Linked DNA regions of Homo sapiens: region 2 is linked to region 1. Evidence: fine-mapped expression QTL. A gene starts in region 1. The other region holds a variant in brackets. All regions are shown on one strand. Distances are from middle to middle.

The links.
Region 2: its variant is fine-mapped to the expression of TRPV1 in fibroblasts (GTEx, PIP above 0.99).

What each region holds. Positions count from the first base shown.
Region 1 is chr17:3,603,432-3,612,447 of GRCh38, reverse strand. TRPV1 (transient receptor potential cation channel subfamily V member 1) reads left to right here and starts at 3,037. Exons shown (of 17, transcript NM_080704.4): 1 at 3,037-3,139; 2 at 3,883-4,021. SHPK (sedoheptulokinase) reads left to right here. Exons shown (of 7, transcript NM_013276.4): 7 at 1,476-4,208. The coding sequence ends at 1,888. RefSeq lists an enhancer at 2,646-3,147.
Region 2 is chr17:4,585,351-4,597,419 of GRCh38, reverse strand. SMTNL2 (smoothelin like 2) reads right to left here. Exons shown (of 8, transcript NM_001114974.2): 2 at 4,972-5,059; 3 at 4,249-4,491; 4 at 3,523-3,598; 5 at 2,093-2,275; 6 at 443-560; 7 at 97-248. Among named protein-coding and RNA genes, the nearest start is that of SMTNL2, 6.9 kb to the right of the region's middle. RefSeq lists enhancers at 3,973-4,544, 11,295-11,912. The variant C/T (reference allele first, on the strand shown) is at 7,350.

The sequences.
Region 1 (9,016 bases):
AAGGCTTTTTTTTTTTTTTTTTAAGACTGAGTCTCGCACTGTCACCCAGACTGGAGTGCAGTGGCACCATCTCAGCTCACTGCAAGCTCTGCCTTCTGGGTTCAAGCGTTTCTCATGCCTCAGCATCCCAAGTAGCTGGGACTACAGGCACACACTGCCATACCTGGCTAATTTTTGTATTTTTAGTAGAGACAGGGTTTTACCATGTTGTCCAGGCTGGTCTGGAACTCCTGACTTCAAGTGATCCGCCTGTCTTGACCTCCCAAAGTGCTGGGATTACAGCGTAAGCCACCGCGCTTGGCCTTTTTTTTTTTTTCGTTTGTTTGTTTTAAGAATGCAGAGCTGGCGGGGCATGGTGGCTCATGCCTGTAACCCCAGTACTTTGGAAGGCTGAGGCAGGTAGATCACTTGAGGTCGAGAGCTTGAGACCAGCCTGTCCAATGTAGTAAAACCTTGTCTCTACTAAAAATACCACAATTAGCCAGGTGTGGTGGTGTGGGCCTGTAATCCCAGCTACCTGGGAGGCTGAGGCAGGAGAATCGCTGGAACCCGGGAGGCAGAGGTTATAGTGAGCCGATAGGATATGTGCCACTGCACTCCAGCCTGGGTGACACAGCGAGCCTCAGAAAAAAAAAAAAAAAAAAAAAAACCCGCAGAGCTAACGTGGTGTCAGGGAGAAAAGTCCGATCGGGATTCTGGCTTGACACTGAAAAGCAAGTTGTAGGATGGTCAACTCATCCTTCTTCCTTGGATTTCAGGTGCCCTGTGCACATAACGAGGGTGGCCCATTCAGTGATTGGTCCTGGATCCTGGGATTTCTGATGCTGCTAACGACCCCAATGACATCCATGATGATAGTTTTGTTTGTTTGTTTGTTTTAGATGGAGTCTTGCTCTTGTTGCCCAGGCTGGAGTGCAGTGGTGCAAGCTCCGCTCACTGCAACCTCTGCCTCCCAGGTTCAAGTGATTCTCCTGCCTCAGCCTCCTGAGTAGCTGGGATTACAGGTGCCTGCCACCACGCCCGGTTAATTTTTGTACTTTTAGTAGAGACAGGGTTTCACCACGTTGGCCAGGCTGGTCTTGAACTCCTGACCTCAGGTGATCTGCCCGCCTTGGCCTCCCAAAGTGCTGGGATTACAGGCGTGAGCCACCACGCCCAGCCAATGATAGTTATTAGTCTGTATATGCATTTGGTCCCCTTGGTTAAGAAGCCTGTGTTAGGGGTAGGGCTCATGGCAGCACTTAATGAGACCTCACCCTGATGTCTGGCTGGGGTCTGCACTGAGACAGCGGGCGGGGATCCAGGGCAGAGTGTAGCTAGCCTGGCTATAGCAGTCCCTGAGCCCAGAACCACCAGCTGCAGCGGGAGGAGAAGCAGCAAGTAGCGCTGTTCCCACCCTGTGGGAATTCTCTGCCATGTCAGCCTGCACTGAGGGGGACGCATGAGCTTACACAGATCTTCTCTGTCTCTGGCAGGCCTGGAGGTTGAAGAATCCACTGTGTATTCACGCATGATTCAGGCAGCTGTGCAGCAGAGAGATACCCACCTGACCATCACCCCGACAGTGCTGGGGGAGAGGCACCTGCCGGACCAGCTGGCCTCAGTGACCAGAATCTCCTCCTCCGACCTCTCCCTGGGGCACGTGACCCGGGCTCTGTGCCGAGGCATTGTTCAGAACCTGCACTCCATGCTTCCGATTCAGCAGCTCCAGGAGTGGGGCGTGGAGAGGGTGATGGGCAGTGGGAGTGCGCTGTCCAGGAATGACGTGCTGAAGCAGGAGGTGCAGAGGGCTTTCCCTTTGCCCATGTCCTTTGGGCAGGATGTGGATGCAGCTGTCGGGGCAGCTCTGGTCATGCTCCGGAGACACCTCAACCAGAAGGAATCTTAGACAGCAAACTCTTTCGCCAAACGACTGCTGTGAATTTTACCTGATTAACATTCCTGACACCATCTGTGGGTCATCCTTTCCCTGGACCGTTCAGTGGACAGCTTTCAAGCAGTGCTTGTTGTGAGGTCCCATCTCGGCCAAGAACTTACCTTCAGAACATACTCTAATAATGCAGCCAGGAGCCGTCAGCCAGATCCCAAATGAGTGCCTTCCGAAATTGACCCACCTGGGAGCTATTTACAAATGTCCATGTGGGAGAGAGAGAGCATGAGAGCACAGTAGCCCAGCCTGCTGGTCAGCAGGCTCATCTGTGGTTCACCTGTAGACAGAGAGCAGATCAATGTGTACTTCAGACACCAGAAAGTCTGGTGGCTTTGGTCCCAAGTGGGAAAAGAGAACTGCCCCATGCCCAGCTTGTGATTATCGTTTTTGGAGACCTGAAGCCCACACTCGGGTCGTATGGACTTCTGGAAAAGTTCTTGTCTCCTGGACTGAACCATGTGACCGGAGGCCCCTTTCCTAGTCTCATCCTCCCCTGGCTGCAGATGCTTAGCTGGGCCAGGGATTGACCCAAGCGCGATGCAGCAGGCAGGCTCAGAAGACGATGCGGGGCTGTGTGCCGGCCTTCTTGCTGCATGTACTCAGCCTCAGGAGAGCTTGCTGCACCCAGGCCGCCCAGGTCTTCACAGCACAACTGCCTGGAAGGCAGGTTGCGAGAAGGAGAGGCGGATGGCATGAGCAGCAAGGGGGACCGATGCTGTGCAGCTCACACCACTCCAGAACCTGACAAGGCACCAGCAGGACCCCTTGCCAGGAGCATGTCTGTGCAGCAGTGTTTTTGCCCCTGCACATTCCAGAAGCCCTCATGGGAAGGGATGCAGCCAGGCAGACTCCTGCCAGATGGGGCAGGTAGTTTATTCAAAGAGAACTCTGTATCCCATAGGCCCAGGCTCTCCTTTCGCTTGGCGTGGGCTTTGCTGGCCCAGTGTGTGCTCCTGGCTCAGCAGAAACATCCATTTGAGTTGGCATCCCTGTAGGGATCCCAGAGCGTTGTAAGCCTTCTTGTGATTGGTAGGGATGGCTGTGGGGTGGCTTCCAGGAGGGGGCCACCATTGCCGCATCTACTTCTAGACTCCCAAAGGAGCCCAGGCTCAGGCAGGCCTGGCCCAGAGTCACGCTGGCAACCACGAGTTTGGGAAGCAGTCGTATTCTCTCTCTCTCTCTCTCTCTCTCTCTCAGTATCCATGACAGGTATGAAACATATTGTCTCTTTATAAATGTCATTTTACAAATTATGTGATTATCTGGAAGCTCTAAGATGAGAGCAAATGCCTGATCACTCTGGCCAAATGTCAGATACTAAAGCCCATTCTTGGCCGGGCATGTTGGCTCCCGCCTGTAATCCCAGCACTTTGGGAAGCCCAAGTGGGTGAATCACCTGAGGTCAGGAGTTCAAGACCAGCCTGACCAACATGGGGATACCCCGTCTCTACTAAAAATACAAGCCGGGCGTGGTGGCGCATGCCTGTAATCCCAGCTACTCAGGAGGCTGAGGCAGGAAAATCACTTGAACTCGGGAGGCAGAGGTTGCAGTGAGCTGAGATCGCGCCATTGCACTCCAGCCTGGGTGACAGAGCAAGACTCTGTCTCATAAATAAATACAAAGCCCATTCTTCCAGAGTCTTGTGCCTTAAATAAAACACACCTCTCTGCTGTGGGAAGACTGTGCAATGGCACAGCCGCAGAGCTTGGTTTGGGAGGTTGAAGTGCTCTGGGGAGAATTCGTAGATCATCCTCAGAAAAGCCTTGCCCTGGTGTTCTACCAGAAAAACGTCTCCCAATCACCCAGGAAAGCTGTCCACAGTAGTCCCCCCTTATCCACGGTGTCACTTTCCATGGGTTCAGTTATCTGCGGTCAACCACGGTCTGACAATATTAAATGGAAAATTCTTCAAACAGTTCCCAAGTTTTCCCTTGTGCATTGTTCTGAGCAGTGTGATGGAGAGTCTCTGCCGTGCCATCTGGGATGCAAACCGTCCCTGTGTTCCCCACGTCCAGGCCGTAGATGCTCCCCGCCGGTCAGTCACTTAGTCGTCAGATCGCCCGTCCTGGTATCACAGTGCTTCTGTTCAGGTCAGTCTTTTTTTACTTCATTAGGGCCCCAAAGCACCAGAGTAGTGATGCTGGTAGTGATGCTGGCTGTTCGGATATGCCAAAGAGAAACCGTAAGGTGCTTCCTTTAAGTGAAAAGATGGGAAGAAAACAGTCATATGCTGAATCTTCTATCTGTGAAATTCTAAAGAAAAAGAAATTCGTGCTAGTTTTTTTTGCCTTTTTTTTTTTTTTTTTGAGACATAGTCTCACTGTGTCACCCAGGCTGGAGTACAGTGGTGCAATCTTGGCTCACTGCAACCTCTGCCTCCCGGGTTCAAGCGATTCTCTTGCCTCACCCTTCTGAGTAGCTGAGATTACAGGCTCCTGCCACCACGCCTGGCTAATTTAGTTTTAGTAGAGATGGAGTTTCATCATGTTGGCCAGGCTGGTCTCGAACTCCTGACCTCAGGTGATCCACTTACCTTGGCCTCCCAAAGTACTAGGATTGCAGGCGGGAGCCACTGACCCCAGCCTCATGCCAGTTTTGCTGTCACACCTCAAACTGCAAAAGTATGGTCACAGTGTGTGATAACTTTTATTAGAGTGTATTGTTAAAACCGTTCTACTTTGGCTGGGTGTGGGGGCTCACACCTGTAATCCCAGCACTTTGGGAGGCCGAGGCGGGTGGATCACCTGACATCAGGAGTTTGAAACCAACCTGGCCAACGTGGTGAAAACTCGTCTCTACTAGAAATACAAAAGTTAGCTGGGCATGATGGCACGCGCCTGTAATCCCAGCTACTTAGGAGGCTGAGGCAGGAGAATCGCTTGAGCTCTGGAAGCAGAGGTTGCAGTGAGCTGAGATCGCACCACTGCACTCTAGCCTGGGTGACAGAGCGAGACTCTGCCTCAAAAAAAAAAAAAAAATTGTTCTACTTTATTGTTGTTGTTAATCTCTTACTGTGCCTAATTTGTAAATTAAATTATATTACAGATATGTATGTGTAGAAAAAACATGGCATATGCAGGATCCAATACTAGCCTTGGTTTCAGGCATCTATGCAGGGTCTTGGGACATATCTCCTGTGGATGACAGGGGGCTACTGTATTTTTTTTTTCTTTTAGGCAGAGTCTCCCTCTGTCGCCCAGGCTGGAGTGCAGTGGTGCGATCTCAGCCCACTGCAACCTCCACCTCCCGGGTTCAAGCAATTCTTGTACCTCAGCCTCCCGAGTAGCTGAGATTACAGGCATGTGCTACCACACCTGGCTAATTTTTGTATTTTTAGTAGAGATGGGGTTTCACCATGTTGGCCTGGTCTTGAACTCCTGACCTCAGGTGATCCACCTGCCTCAGCCTCCCAAAGTGCTGGGATTACAGGCGTTAGCCACCATGCCTGGCCTGCTACTGTAATTTTTCTTTCAGCCAAATGAGTTTAAGATGCTGTCATTGCAGCCCTGAGGAAGGCTGCATGAGAGAGAAGAGTAGGCTGAGTTTACCAGCGTCCTTTGTCTTTTGGGAGGAGCCAGGCCGTCTAATCTCAGAGTGGCAGCCTGTCTCGCCTGCCCAGCATGCAGTGGATGGGGTCTGCAAATGTAAGGTTAGGAACGGGATGGACATCCAGCAAGCTCAGGCAGCCCAGCCTTGTGCCTGGTGTGGCCCCGGAACTCTCTGTCCTCTTTCCAGACTATGCATTCACTCTGCCTCTGAGGACTGAGCCTTGGAGGGTCCCAGTTTGTCAATAAACAGGGCTGCTCCTGCTGCTTCCGTTGCCTGAGGCCTGGAGCCTCCGTCTAGGTGGGGGATGAGTGCAGCTGCCTGAAGTCACAACCACGTGCACAACCCACCCTCCTTCCCAGGAGGTGCCAGTAAGTGGTTTGAGGCCGGCATGCTTCTGAAGAAGTGGTGAGCGGGGCTCCTTTGCTGGCCGTCAGTATCCCGATGCTATGAGCCCACGGCAGGGCTGCACCTTCCCCCCGATCCGCTTCGGCCAGTGGGACGTGCACAGGGAATGCCTGTCACTCCTGGGCAGAGGTCTTTAGGAGCCAGTGAGCTACTTGCCACACACCCTTCCCTTTGCCACAAGTGACTGGCAGTGCCCCAGAGAGTGGTAGCTCTGTCAGCCTGGGTCCCTGAGTGAGGACAGTGTGGTGTAGAGTTCTCACCAACCAGCGAGGGACGTGCAGTGGGACAGAGAAGTAAGCGCCCTTTGGTGCAGTGCCTCACACCTGTAAACCCAGCACTTCGGGAGGCCGAGGAGGGCGGATCACTTGAGGTCAGGAGTTCCGAGACCGGCCTGGCCAACATGGTGAAACCCCGTCTCTACTAAAAATACAAAAAAATTAGCCGGGCATGGTGGTCGGCACCTGTAATCTCAGCTACTTGGGAGGCTGAGGCAGGAGAATCGCTTGAGCCTGGAAGGCGGAGGTTGCAGTGAGCTGAGATCATGCCACTGTACTCCAGTCTGGGAGACAGAGCGAGATTCTGTCTTTAAAATAAATAAATAAATAAATAAATAATAAACCTTTGATGTTTGAAGCCACTGAGATTTGGGGGTTGTCACCACAGCAGAGCAGCCTCAGTAGCCTGCACCTGGGACGTCTCCCATGCACCCAGCACAGACCCAGGCAGCCACATTTTCTGAGCGCCCAGTAGTAGCTGGGTGTTCTCTCAGAGACTGCCCCCCGTTGAATTTCCATCACGAGGCAATGGAAAAATACCAACAGTTGGTTACATAAACAGACCCTAGGAAAAGAAAAAGACACAGACAATGACAGCACCTCTATGCCCAGAGGGAGGAGAAATTCATTCTTTACACAAGTCACATTGAGCTAAACCTCCAAGGGTTTCCATCCATGGTTACTAACGACAGTTAACATTTCTTTTTGAGTACCTGCTGTGTACTGGGATCTGATCTAAACTCTACTTGTTTGAATTCATTGAATCTTTTTTTTTTTTTAAATGGAGTCTCACTCTGTTACCCAGGCTGGAGTGCAGTGGTGCGATCTCAGCTTACTACAACCTCAGCCTCCCGGGTTCCAGCAATTCTCATGCCTCAGCCTCGCGAGTAGCTGGGATTACAGGTGTACACCACCTCACCTGGCTAATTTTTTGTACTTTTAGTAGAGACGGGGTTTTGCCATGTTGCCTAGGCTGGTCTTGAACTTCTGGCCTCAAGTGATCCACCCACCTCGGCCTCGGAAAGTGCTGGGATTATAGGCATGAGGCACCATGCCAGGCCTCATTTAATCTAGAAGGTGGGTAGTGTTATCCCCATTTCACACATGGAGAGATAGATAAACAAAAAAGTTAAGTAACTTACCTGAGATCACAGTGCTAGGATTCAAACCCCAGAGCGAACCCACTCTCTTTAGCAACTAGGCAGTGGGGTCAGGCTAGGTAAATGTGTTTACATTAAAGTGATCGTCATGTCCAGAGTGTGACAAATTGGTGTAACTTGGTCATAGTGTGAATGGAAGGATGTTTATAGGAGTTGTGGCTGGACGTGTTGGGCAGACTGTGAAGGGTCTTGCATGCCCGCCTGAGGGGATTGGACTGTCTCCTGTAGACAGTGGGGTTTGGAGGACTGGGGCCTTGGGAGTGTAGCTGACAGTGTGGACGCTGGATTGGAGGAAGGGTGTTCTGGGAGACAGGAGGCTGTAAAACAGCCTGGAGAGATGGTGGGCCAGACCCAGTTCAGGGCAGGGTAGGGGACTCCAGCCCACCAGCCGCTGCTTTTCCTCCCGCCACACACTGCCTGCCTCTGGGCCTTGACCCCGTCCACATCATGTGTATGTGGCTTTCATGTTCTCTACTTTTCTCTTCTTCTTCTTTTTTTCTTTTTCTTTTTCTTTTTTTTTTTTTGAGACTTTTTGAGAGTCTTCCTCTGTTGCCCAGGCTAGAGTGCAGTGGTGCGATCTTGGCTCACTGCAACCTCCGCCTCCTGGGTTTAAGCAGTTCTCCTGCCTCAGCCTCCTGAGTAGCTGGGATTACAGGTGCCTGCCACCACACCCAGCTAATTTTTGTATTTTTAATAGAGACGGGGTTTCACCATGTTGGCCAGGCTGGTCTCAAACTCCTGACCTCAGGTGATCCGCCCGCCTCAGCCTCCCAAAGTGCTGGGATTACAGGCATGAGCCACCACGCCTGGCCTATTTTTCTCTTCTTCTGAAGTGGACTGAAAGCTCTTTGAGAGCAGGTGCCTAGGTGTCCTCAGCCCTGTCCTCCTGCACCTTAGCTCATGCCAAGGCCCATGTTTGGAATGTCCTCCTTGTGGGGCAGAATCCTTCTCCTTGTCCAAGGCCCAGCCCAAATGGCATCTGCCCTCTGCAAAGGGCCTCCCTGGTGACACATACGCCATCTGATTACAACTGCAGGGGAGGCCAAGACCCGGCTCAACATTTGTTGTTGGCATGGTCTGTTGGCCCCAGAGCCCCTGGCCTGTGCCTGTTACAGGGTGCCCTGCCCTGCCTAGTGTCAAGAGAGAGCCTGTGCACATCTTCCTTTCCTGTCCATCGTGGGCTTCTTGAGCGCAGAGACCACCCTGTTGACCCTACTGCTCTGCTAGGGGATTTGTATAGCACATGGTGGGCCCTCAGGAGAGAGGGTCTCACCTGGCCTCTCCCCTCAGCCACAGGTAGATGGACAGGCCAAGTCTTTGAAAGTGGGAGAGTCCTGATACAGAGATGCTCACTTGCGTGACTCATCAAACATTAAGCAAACCTTGTTTTTTTCATTAAAAAACAATTAGTCATAACTTCGAGCTAATGGCCGGATACAGCTCAGCAGTCAGCAGATGTGGTCCTCAGGCTGAAATAATGAAGATGAGAGCAGTCATCTCTCATGCCTGCCTAGAGCTTTACCAGGCTCAGAGCCCATTCACACCCACTATCCTGACTAATCCCAGAAAAGCCTCGTAAAGCAGGTAGGGCAGGTGTTCTTGGCTGTAATTTTGTGGAGGAAGAAGTAGACCCAGAGGTTCAGCTACCAGCCGGAGTCCATACAGCCGGCATCTAGCACACGCGGGCCTCTTCCAT
Region 2 (12,069 bases), 980 kb before region 1:
CCCGACATCCCACTCGCCCCCATGCCCCACCTGGGGAAGAAGTTGGGCTCAGGGACTGGGCTGGGGCTGGTAGCCAGCAGGAGCCACCATACTCACTCGGCCATGGTGAAAGCCAGCTCGAAGTTCTTCTGCCTCTGCGTGGGGCTCAGGGAGTTGTAGTCAAAGGCATCGGGGAAGAAGGAGTGTACCAGGGCGCAGAAGGCCATGCCGTCGCTCCAGCTGGAGGAGAAGTTCTGCAGGTCCACGTGCTGCAACAGGGTGAGTGGGGTCAGTGCGGGAGGGCAGCTGGGCACCCACTCGGAAGGCATAATTACCGTGGTTCCTACCCCTTAACCCCAGCCTCAGCGGGCTCCTGCCCAGGCGGGAGAACAAGGACAGGGGCGACGCTTGGTCAAGCTTTTAGCTGGGGCGTCCCAGCAGCCGGAGGGGAGCCGGGGCTCACCTGGTAGCCCAGCGTCTTGCTGCGGCACCACTCGAGCAGGATCTGCTTGATGCTGCTGGCGCTGGCCACGCCGAAGCTCTGCGACCGCTTCAGCCTGGCCCGGGCCTCGCCTTTCCCCCTGCGGAGAGACGGCAGGCCTGCTGCGGGGGCCCCTCCAGCTGCCATCTCCCAGTGCGGGTCTGGGGCAGGGGAGGCTGTCCTGGCACCACCAAGGAGGGTGCTCCCACCTGCTCTGCTCACCCAGGGGAGATGCTGGTGGCACACGTGGGCTCAGCTGTGCCCACGTCCACGGCACAGCCCATGTACCAGCGACACAGCCTCCTTTGATGGTATGTGGCAGGACCGTCCACACCCCTACAGCCCTCCAGGTCCCCTGTTTATTCCCCATCCAGGAAGCAGGGGTCACCTGGGAATCCTGAGACAGAAGACCTTGGCTCACATGGCCCTGGGCCCCTGCCTTCTGCTTTGGAACACCTTTCCCAGCTCCTTCCTCCCACTCCTCCTTCTGAGCTCCCCTCTTAATGGGGTGCCTCCTTCCCTGATGGCTCTTTCCTAGCCAGGAGGGATGAGTTCCTCTTCTGGGCCCCAAGGACAGTCCCTAATGGCCTAGGCCAGGTTGTTTGGGGCCAGTGGGGAGATGTCCGGGGTCGGTCCCCCTCACTAGAGTCGAGCAGGGACTGGCTGTCGTCTTCATTATCCCACAAGGCCTGGGCCACACCCTGCACACAGCAGGCATCAATACCACGCTTGGGCCACACTCTGCACACAGCAGGCATCAATACCACGCTTGGGCCACACCCTGCACACAGCAGGCATCAATACCACGCTTGGGCCACACCCTGCACACAGCAGACATCAATACCACGCTTGGGCCACACCCTGCACACAGCAGGCATCAATACCACGCGTGGGCCACACCCTGCACACAGCAGACATCAATACCACGCTTGGGCCACACCCTGCACACAGCAGGCATCAATACCACGCGTGGGCCACACCCTGCACACAGCAGACATCAATACCACGCTTGGGCCACACCCTGCACACAGCAGACATCAATACCACGCTTGGGCCACACTCTGCACACAGCAGGCATCAATACCATGCACTGACACGAGGACTGGCTGAATATGCAAAGGTGGGCTGGAGCCTGAGGAGCCGTCGCTCGAGACCTAGTAGCAGGCTGGAGGCCACTCGGCCCCGTGGCATCACCTTCGGTCCTTGGGCAAGACCAACCCCATGCTGGGGCTCCCAGCTCTGGCCAGGAATCCCAGTCCCCATCCAGTCCCCGGTCATGCCCAGAAACCAGAGGAGCCACAACCCCTGGGGAATGTGGGTGTGAGGGCAGCCTGGCGGCACCAGAGACAGGACAGGGGGCCTCGGGAATGGAGGAGGAGAGAGGGGCTCTCACCAAGCCTTCCTGGCTCCCTGCCTCACAGCCATCTCCCCCAACAACTGGGGTCCTCTGTCCCCCCAAGCTGCCCTGTGGCCCAGCCCTAACTTTGTGCCTTGCCCAAGAGATCTTGTCCTGGGCAACAGCGCCCTGGGGAACAGGACAGGGCTGAACCTTGCCCTGCTGCACCCACCCAAGCCCCGTCTGGGTCTGGGCACACCGTGGGGCCGGGCCTGTCTGTGAGTGGGCATCCGTACTTGCCGGCCGCCGTTTCCTGCTCCCACTTCTCAAACAATGCTTTCCGGGCCTGCGCCTCCGAGGTGCGGGGCAGCGTCTGCGACCTCACCAGCTCCCTGCGACGCTCCCCCTGCCGATGGACCTGAGTTATGGCTGGCGGCTGCGGGGACACGGGCGACTGGGGTGGTGTCACCAGCGGTGGGCTGAGGAAAGAATCGCCGAGTTGGGACCTGGGCCCAGCAGCCATCACTAGCTCACCAGGCCCCAAGGTCTCCATTGCACTGAGTGTGGACAAGGCAGCCTGCACCGTGATGGGCGCTCAGAGAAGAGGCCCCCTTGCTCCGGTCCCTAGCTGGTTTGACAGGTTTTCTGAATTGTGCTGGCTGGAGGGACTGGCCAATAGGCTCAACTCAGGAGACGCTGGGCCCGATCTGGACATAACCACCCCTTTGCAGGTGTCAATGCCTGGGGAGGACAGAGGGACCCCCTCCTCAGGCAGGAGGTGTGCTCAGAACCAGCCCCGGAGGGACCAGGCCTCCTGCCTCCACCACCATGCGATAAGACCCCCTTTGTTTTCCCCAGAACGGTTTGCCAGAAAGTCACAATTCTCCTTTTATTATTAAAGAAAAAAAAAAAAGCCAAGCCTGCTACCCTACCCCCATCCCCAATCACAGTCCCGCTGGCTGGCTGGGGGGAGGCCTGTGCCACAGGGAAGGACCTGCTCACCTGCCCCTGCTCGCAGCCCGTGGGCAGGAAGTTCCGGGCTCTGAGGGACCCCAGCTGGCTGGGATGGAAGAAGACAAAGCTCCTGTCCTCTCCCTCCTGCCGGCTGAGAGGCCTCCTCCAATATTTTTTTGTTTTTTATTCATTTATTTATTTATTTATTTATTTATTTTTTGTAGATAGAGTCTCACTCTGTTACCTAGGCTGGAGAGCAGTGGCACCATCTTGGCTCACTGCAAACTCCGCTTCCCGAGTTCAAGCGATTCTCCTGCCTCAGCGTCCCAAGTAGCTGGGATTACAGGCACCCACCACCATGCCCAGCTAATTTTTGTATTTTTAGTGGAGACAGCGTTTTGCCATGTTGGCCAGTCTGGTCTCGAACTCTTGACCTCAGGTGATCCACCCACCTCAACCTCCCAAAGTGCTGGGATTACAGGTGTGAGCCACCGCGCCCGGCCACTCCTCCAATCTTTTGACTGACTTGAAGGTCCCACAAAGAAACCAGGCTGTGACCATATTTCTCCAAATGAAACTCTCCACCGAGGCCCACTGCCTCACTCCCCCTGCTCAGACCTTCCCCCCATCCTGCCGCCCAGTGCTCCCGAGATCCAGCCCCGAGCCTTACCAGGAGGCACCAACCCCAGGGCCAACCCTGGGCGGCCTGCGTCCAAAGCAGAGAAGACACCTGGGGCGCAGCGACCCCACAGGAACACAGGCCCTGACTCACCTATTGCTGTGTTTGCTTGCTGTCACTGCCCCATAGCCAGAGCTTGGCACAGACCACGTGAAAGAGGAATTCTTCTCTGTGGAAGAGAGAGGGAGAGAAGTAACAAACCCTGGCCCCAGGGAGGGCCCGCCATAGCCTCCCTTCCTCTGACCCAGCCCTGCCTCATTTACCCGGCATCGCTGCATGGATGAGCTAACCTTCTGGGCTAAGCTGGCCCTGCCTCAGCAGACAGTGGAGGAGAAAGGAGGATGGGCACACACAGCAACAACATCAAAGAGGTCTTTTCAACTGTCCCCGCCCTGCTCTTGAGAGCACAGAGCCCAGGGCCCGTGCCATGTATCCAGTGAACACTGCTCCCAAACCCTCCCTATAGAGGCCCACACGGCTTCCCCCAGGACATACCACGGAGGACTGGCCACAGGCCCAAGTCAGGCCTGGGGCCTTGAGGGAGGGGACAGTGCCCAACGTGCAGGGCAAGAGGCCACCTTCCAACTGTAATAAAAGCCACGGTCGCCCCCACCAGGGGATGACGCTATTTCACAGCATCTCTGGGCAGTAGCCCGGGAGGATGGGCTAAGGGAAGGGGCTGACATGGCAGGCAGAGGCAGGGCTGGGCTTAGCCCCTCGTTTTCCATGTCACCCACCGACTCCCTCTCCCCAGCCCCGGCCTTCCCTCTCCCATCCCAAGGGGAGGTCTGCCCCAAGGCCACGCTCTCCAGCTCATACCGCTAGGACTGGGAGTCCAGGGCGTGATGACCTCGCTGGGGCTTGGGTTGAGGCCCCCCAGGGTGGCAGCAGACATGGGTGATAGAGCCGCAGCTGAGGTCTCCCCAGAGAACCTGTCAGAGACTCGGGTGATGGCCGTGACTGGCTGGTGGGGCAGCCGCAAGGAGAGGCTCACAGGACGAGGCCTGGGGGGATCTGGTGCTGAGAAGTTTTGGGCAATCTCAGGGGGTCCATCGCCTGGACCTGGAACATGTGACCAGCATGGGTGGGTGGTCAGCTGTGGCAGCCACAGGGGCCTGGGACCTCCCAGGAGGGCTCTAGCCTCCCTGGGCCCTCCTCCCACCTCCTCTAGGAAGGCCTCCCTGACTGCTCCAGCCTCTCTGACCTCCCCTACCAGGGATATCTTACTGCTCCAACCAGAATTGATTTTTCCCAACTTCCCCTCATGGCCAGCTTAATAAATACTAGTCGGCTCCTCAGCCTCTATTTGCTTTCCTCTAGAAACAGGAGAGCTCACTACCTCCTGAGATCTCCCAACTTCCCTCTGTGTTTCACAAGTTCTACTGAATGACGCTGCTCTCCTGGCAGCCTCTCTCCCTGCTGGGGTTCAGGATAGAGTCCCCCCGATGCCAGGCCAAGGGCCAGCCTGGCACAGATACCTGACCAAGGCCTTACTTAACCCCCAAACCTACCCAGCCACCCCTCCTCTGCCGTCAGCCCTACCTGCCCCCGGCTGGTGCCCATTTTCCATGATGCAGGAGTTTGAGGTCTTTCTCATCTCCGACTCACTGGCCTCATCGTGATCCAAACTCTACAGAGACACAAATGTCACCGAGACCCCATCAGCTAGGGCCAGCTGCCCACCCCCAAAAGCTGCCCACCCCCAAATCCCCTCCCGTTCTGGCAAAACACCAATCATGTTGAGAGAAAACAGCCCCCAGGAAGAAAGTGACGGGCCAAGTCACACAGCAAAAGCTGGGATGGCCCCACTCCAACTGCTGAGCCCCTGCGATCCTGGGAGGCAAACACCTCCACTGGGCTCCTCCCAGAGTCCCAAAAAGCTGAGGACAGAAGTCAAGATGGAGGGTTCCAATGACATTAGGCCCCCTCACCTTTTCCCCCAGGCTGGACCAGATGATGGGGTCAGGAGTGCCTCGCCCCCTGCCCCTCTCAGCTGGGCCAGGTCGGCATGGCTACCCGTGCAGGGGCAGCAGGAACCAGTGGCACCAGGTCCTTCTGGGCCAACGATGAGCTACGGAGCCCTGATCACGATGAGATCTTTGCATGGGAGGCGGGGACACAAGATTTACCCGGCTATGCAGAGTGCAAGCGCCTGATCAGCTCCGTGCGACTCATCCATCCCAGCTGGGCAGTAGTAGTGGGTGGGGCAGGTGGGGGCAGACAAGACAGCCAAGGCCAAGAGCCAGTGGGGAGCCTGGGATCCAGGCTGTGCTGCCACCCACCCATGTGACCTGGGCCACATCAGTTCCCCTCTGGGTCTGTTTCCCTGTTTGAGAAACGGGAGCAGGCTAGGCAAGTGCCACTCGGCATCTACCAAACATCCAGCCCTTTTTCCGGTGCTATCCTTATAGCAACACCTTCTAAACACCACTTATAGCAACTGTCCTCCCCGGTAGGTGCTGCCAGAGCCATTTCAGAGATGGGGCCCGAGGACTCCCAGAGGGCATGTGCCCTGCCCAAAGTTATACAGCAAAAAACAGCTGGCACGTGTGGCCAGGGGAGAAGTCCTCAACCTTGGTCCTGCCCTCCTCACAGCCAGGGCGTGTGAACGGCTGAGAGTGTCTGTGGGGCTGGTGGGGGCTCCACCACGAGCCCAGGACGAGCGGCTTGAGAGGTCGGCTGTGCCTCTCCCAGATGCCCCCTGGTCTACAAGGTTCCCAGGCAAATGATGTTGCATCCCTGGCCCCAGATGGCTCAGCTCCTCTTGCAACCAGTGCGGGAGGTGCCACCCTGCCATTGGGGAATCAGTCTGGGAGGGGAGCCAGGCTGGTGAACAGAGGGGGCCGTGTCAGGATAAGGATGCCTCACACAGGCTTCATCTGACCCAGTGGGGCAAGGAGGGCTTCTCAGAGGCAGGGGTGCCTGAGCCACATCCAGAGTGAGCCCGGTGGAGGAGCAAGGGAGGGCACTCCCAGCAGAGTGATTAGTGTCTGCTTTTGCAGAGAGACATCAAGGCACAGGTATCCTGATCATGCCCGTCCAGGACGCAGGCAGATGGAGAAGTGCCCTGCCGCCCAAGCTGCCTGCCCTGCCGCCCAAGCTGCTGGCCCTGGGTACTTGACGCCTTAGACAAGAAGGAGCCCAAGGTCCTCGGCTCTGTGTTTCAGGCACACCCTTCAGAAGATGCCAGAGAGTGGAGACCAGATGGCAAGACACTTCACTAGTCCTGGGCAGGAACCTGGGGAGGGGAGATGGGGCACTGGGAGGGCCACGGGCAAGAAGGACTCGGAGCTTTGGGGAAAAGGGATCTGGCTGGGAGACTGGGTGGACATGGAAGAGGAAGGGTGCCAAGCCTCTCCCAAGCCCAGACTTGGTGGGTCAGGGCAGGTTTAGGGGCTAAATGAGGGTTTCAGTTGGGACATGTTGAGGGCCTGGGGCACCTGGAGCATCAGGGAGCTGAGGAGGTAGCTGGATTTTTGAGTCTGGAGTTTAAGAGAAAAGAAGGACGAACATGGAAAAACAGGAGTCAGGGGCATGCACTGGGCTCCTGGAAGCCCAGCAGAGGAAGAGCAGCTTAGGGGCCCTGGGATGAGGCCCCCACATTTCAGGAAGCAACAGAGCAGTCTGCGGAGAATGAGGAGCAGCCAGAGACGTAGGAGGAGCCCCTGAAGAATGGTGAGAAAGCCAAGGCCAGGAAGGAAGGGAGTCAAGAAGCCAGGCACGGGGCCAGGCGCGGTGGCTCACGCCTGTCATCCTAGCACTTTGGGAGGCCGAGGCGGGTGGATCACTTGAGGTCACGAGTTCAAGACCAGCCTGGCCAACGTGGTGAAACCCCATCTCTACTAAAAATACAACAATTAGCCAGGCATGGTGGTGGGTGCCTGTAATCCCAGCTACTCAGGAGGCTGAGGCATGAGAAT[C/T]GCTTAAACCCAGGAGATGGAGGTTGCAGTGAGCCAAGATTGCACCACTGCACTCCAGCCTGAGCAACAGAGCGAGACTCTGTCTCAAAAAAAAAAAAAAAAAAAAAAAAAAAAAAAAAAAAAAAAAAAAAAGCCAGGTGCGTCCAAAGGCAGCCTGGGGTTGAGGAAAAGGTGAAGAGGAAATCCAACCAGGCATCCATTGGGTTCAGCAAAAGAAGAGGTCATGGGTGATCAGAAGCGTGGGGCGGGGGACAGGGGGTTGGGGGACAGGAGATGGCCTAGCAGAGGGGTCCCAGAGAAATGAAGACAGCGCAGTAACTTTAGCCCTGAGCGAAGCCAGGGGAAAGGGTCTGAGGGGTTTTTCCAGAAGGAAGAGGCAAGACCACATTCATAGGGTGAGAAAGGTGAGGGGAGCATCTGCAGAGCGGGACCACTGGGGAGCTCACAGCAGACAGGACCCAGAGCCTGGGAAGAGCCAGCCTTGGAGAGGAGGCGACCCCTGAGCTCTTGATTCAAGAGTGGGAGGAGGAGAGGCCAGGCCCACTCTCAGAAACGCAAGAAAAGCACAGGGCGTCTCCCAGCACGCAGAGCAGAACGGGTGCCCCTAGAGCCACGCTGCGGCCGTGTAGACCATGTCGGCAGGGGGAGGAGAACCAGCCAGTCCAGCTGGAACCCCGGCCCCCACAGTCACCAGGCTCTGGGGTCTCCGTGCCCCCTCACCCACCCTGCTCTCGTCTGACAGGTTCCACAGGTCCAGGCGGGGCTCTGGGGGGAAAGGCTGAGGGTGAAACCATTTTCCCAGGAAATATGTTTCTCTATAGGTGGGTGGGAGGCCCTCCGCAGATGCCTGTCCCTGCACGTTGCAGCCCCTCAACAACCCCCATGATGCCCCAGGGGACCAGGCGCTACACCAGACTGGGAGTAAGTTCTATCCTGGTTAGATCACTGCTAAGGGTTCTCCGGCAAAGGGAGGAGGGGAAGGGGCTGGGCTAATGCAGGCTGGGGTGTAGGGCTGAGCCCAGACTCCCAAGCTCCCCTGCCCCACGACTAGAAGCATTCGTCACCTGGGGAAAGGGGTCTGCCCGTGCCTTAGGTCAAGGCGCAAGGGGCTATTCTGAGACCATCCTCCAACCCATCATCACACAGATGGGGAAAGCAAGACGTGGGGTGGGGCAGGGGGAACCCCTAAACCCCACACCATGACTAAAGGTAGTGGCAGAGCCAAAGTACGGGACTCGGGTCTCCCACCCCAAACCAGGGCTCTGTCCACAAAGTGCTCTGGCCTTCTAGGGGGCAGAGAGGACAACTCAAGGCAAAGTTGTCTTCCAGGACCTGGGTCAGTATGAGCCCCGGCCCCATGGGATCTGTCTTAGCCAATGAGTGTGAGGAAAAGGCGGGGGACTGGGGTCACCACCCAGTGGGACCTTCACAGAACTCAGAGGTCTTCAACCAAAGGGCTGGGCTGGAACGAGCTGTCCCCGCAGAGTCCCCAGTGGGTTACTGCTCTCCTTTGATGGGGGCAGCCTGTCGCCGTCATGCGGAAGGAAACCAGGGAGGGGCCTCGGTATGCTGGGACCGGGGCAGAAATCGCTGGAGAGCCCTGGGGCTGGGGACAGGTCCTGTTGAGCTGGCCTGGTACCCCCCAAGATTCCCCAGCTCGGCTTTGTTTTGAGAAAGGGGAGGTGCCCCATGAGGGAGCCCAGGCCTGAGGCACTCACGGGAAAGGCGGAAGGGTGATGAGGTAAGTCTGATTTCAGGGACCTTCTTATTGGAAAAGCTTTTAGACATTTTTGTAGGGGAAGGAAGAATATTTCAGGCCTTCTGGGTGCTGCCTGATCTGCACGGGCCCATCCATGGGGACGAGACCCACGCAGGGCCAGAGCCCCATCCTAAGACAGTTCACACTGCTGACCCGGCCCTCCTCCACTCACAACACCGTTTGAAAGGACTTAATTCAAACTTCTCCCTAAAGCATTTAACTCTCTTATCGCACAGTGTGTCTGGGAAAGGAAGGCAGATAAGGCGAGTCTGGCTTCTTTCATGGTCGGGCCTCTGACATGGGGCTCCTGGCAGCTGTTCCTGGGGCCTCCGCTGCCTCGGGCATAGGGACCCAGTGGCTCCAGCTCAGCTGAGGATGACATTTCCAGGCCACAGCTCTGGCCCAACCTGCTGGGGCCTGGGCCTGGCCTCAAGCTGCCACCATCCACCCCCGGCCCCAAGCTGGCTCTCAGCTCCCTGCTCCCAGCCAGACAGGATTACTTGATCAACCCTTCCTGTATTGAGTTCAGGGGACATTTATATATTGGAGACAATCTACCTCCAATCCTTCAGTCCCCAGTTTGAAAGGAACTGGGTCTCTAAATGTCATTGCTTGTTACAGAGGGGTAGTGTGACACCAACCTCTACAATGCCAGGTAGTACAGCCATCCCTGGCTCATGTGGATGGGATGAGATTGTCCCACCCAGACCCCCACTACACAGACACAAAGTCTGAGAGGTCAGACACCCAGCAGCCTGGTGTGGGGCTGTGACTCTATGTCCATGGTCCACACTCCAGTCTCACCCTGAGCCCCGGCTCCTTGAGTGTGACCAAGCTCTTGATCACATCGTGCTGGTCACAGGACACGAGCCAGCACATGGGGATGGCTCCACACAGTCCCTCCTCTCAATGCTGGACACTGGTCTGGAGGCTGTGACAATGCTCCTGAGACGGAGGACAGCAAGAGAGATGGGGATTGGTGCTTCGGGGGTCAGCCCAGCGGCAGCTGCCTCAGGCCCCGGGAGCCAGGGCTCAAGGGGTGCAGAGCCTCTAACCCAACTGGGGACCATAGCCATGTTCCACCCACAGTGCTCAGCTACCCTTGCTGCTCATGCCCCTGGGTGCCTGGGTCTCCATCTTCACTCCCCAACAGGCCGACGCATCTTCACTGACCCCAGCCTCTTCTTCCAGGAGGGCTCCTTCTCTGGTTTGCTGAGAGTGCACTCAGGTCCTCCTCACTCCCTGGCAGTTCCCCGGTCTGGTTTTTAATTCCTTCAGACTCTTTGCTTCTGCCCAGAGAGCTCCCTAATCTCCAGGCTTGCTCACTGTGTGGAGCACCAGATCCATGAATCCACCTGCTCTGGGACAGCTTCACCTGGAGTTCCCATAGTCCCCTCATGTTCAGCACGACCCGGGTGGAACCCAGCATCTCACCCCAGATCTGTGACCCAGCAGTCCCCCAAGTCAGAGCTCCCCTCTGAGACTACCCCATCTGCTCATTCCCCCTCTGAAACCCTGTCCAAGGCAGCCCCTCTACACACCAAGGCCCACGGCCCAGCTCAGACCTTTCCTTTCTCCTTGGACCATCACAATCAAGTTACCCACCTCCAGCCACCCTCCACCTTCCATCCACCCCGAAGAGGGCTTGCCAGACACAAAGAAGACCCTCATCCTGAGCTTCATCCACCAACTCCTAACCTAGTGGACTAGCTTGGTGCCAGTGAACAATGGCTAATCTCCATTGACAAAAATCACGACTGGAGAGAATTCCCTCTCTCTCTCTCTCTCTCTCTCTCTCTTTGTGTGTACACACACATCTACATGTATATGTGAACCTGACATTTTTTTTTTTAATTTGGACAGCTGCTGCTATGAGCAGACAAATAGCAAATGCATGTTCAAATAAAACCTCAGAAACAACCGATGACACAGTTGATGAGGCACGTGTGAGCTCACAGTGGTGATTTTAGACCATGGTCACGTAGAGTGTCATGTTCATAAGACAGACTTAAGTGTATCCACATTTCCAGACATTTCACACGGAGCACTGGGACACTCCCGGGTTCTGCTACCATGACATGTTTAAGAACTTCTTACAGGCCGGGCAAAGCCCAACTCCTCTGCCCAGCACACTAGGGGCATTCGCCACTGCCCACTCCACTCGCATACCTCGAGGCTGCACTCACCAGTGAGTACTTTCAGCCTTTCTGAGGCTTCCTGCACAGCCCCCACCCCACCCTCATCTGCACCAGTAGCAGCAAGCCCCAGGCCCCCAGCACAAAGCCTTGCTGAGATACCCACTGAGAAGGGGCTAACTACTGTGTTTGGAGCAAAACATCTCTGGCTGCCCAAACTTGGTCTGGGGCCATCTCCCACCCTGGATGGGACCTCCAGGGGGAAGGCCCAATCTGATACCCTCCTCCAGGCCCCCTAGGGTCCAGCCCAGCCCACAGCGGGAAATCTGAGAGCCCCAGGGATTGCACCAAGGAGGGAGCAGGTGCAGGCTACACAGCCCCAGATCCTGGGAACCCAACCCGAGAGCACATGCCTGATCAGGATGGAAAATCCCACCCAAGGGCCACTGCACACACCATGGACACATTCTAACTGCTCTGGGTGGCCCATGCGCAAGGTAGTGACTGGTCCACGTCGGCCTCCGCCCTATCCCCACGTGGTGTGGGCCTCTGGCTAGTCACTGACCCGAGGAATCTAGACACGGCTCAAGGCGGGTTTCCACCTCTCTCCCTTCACGGTAAGGGATTTACCCCCTGCGATGGAGAGTTCCCAAAAGCCGCTGCTGATCGCGTCCCCCTCGACCCCCCTCCCCACCCATCCAGGGGCCTGAGTTCTCAATCTGAGTTAATCAATAACCAGAGCCGTCAGGCCTCAGTGAAGCGGCAACGCAGGGGAGCGTGAATGGAGGGTGGGGGTCAGGCAGGGGTGTCGACCATTCCAACATGC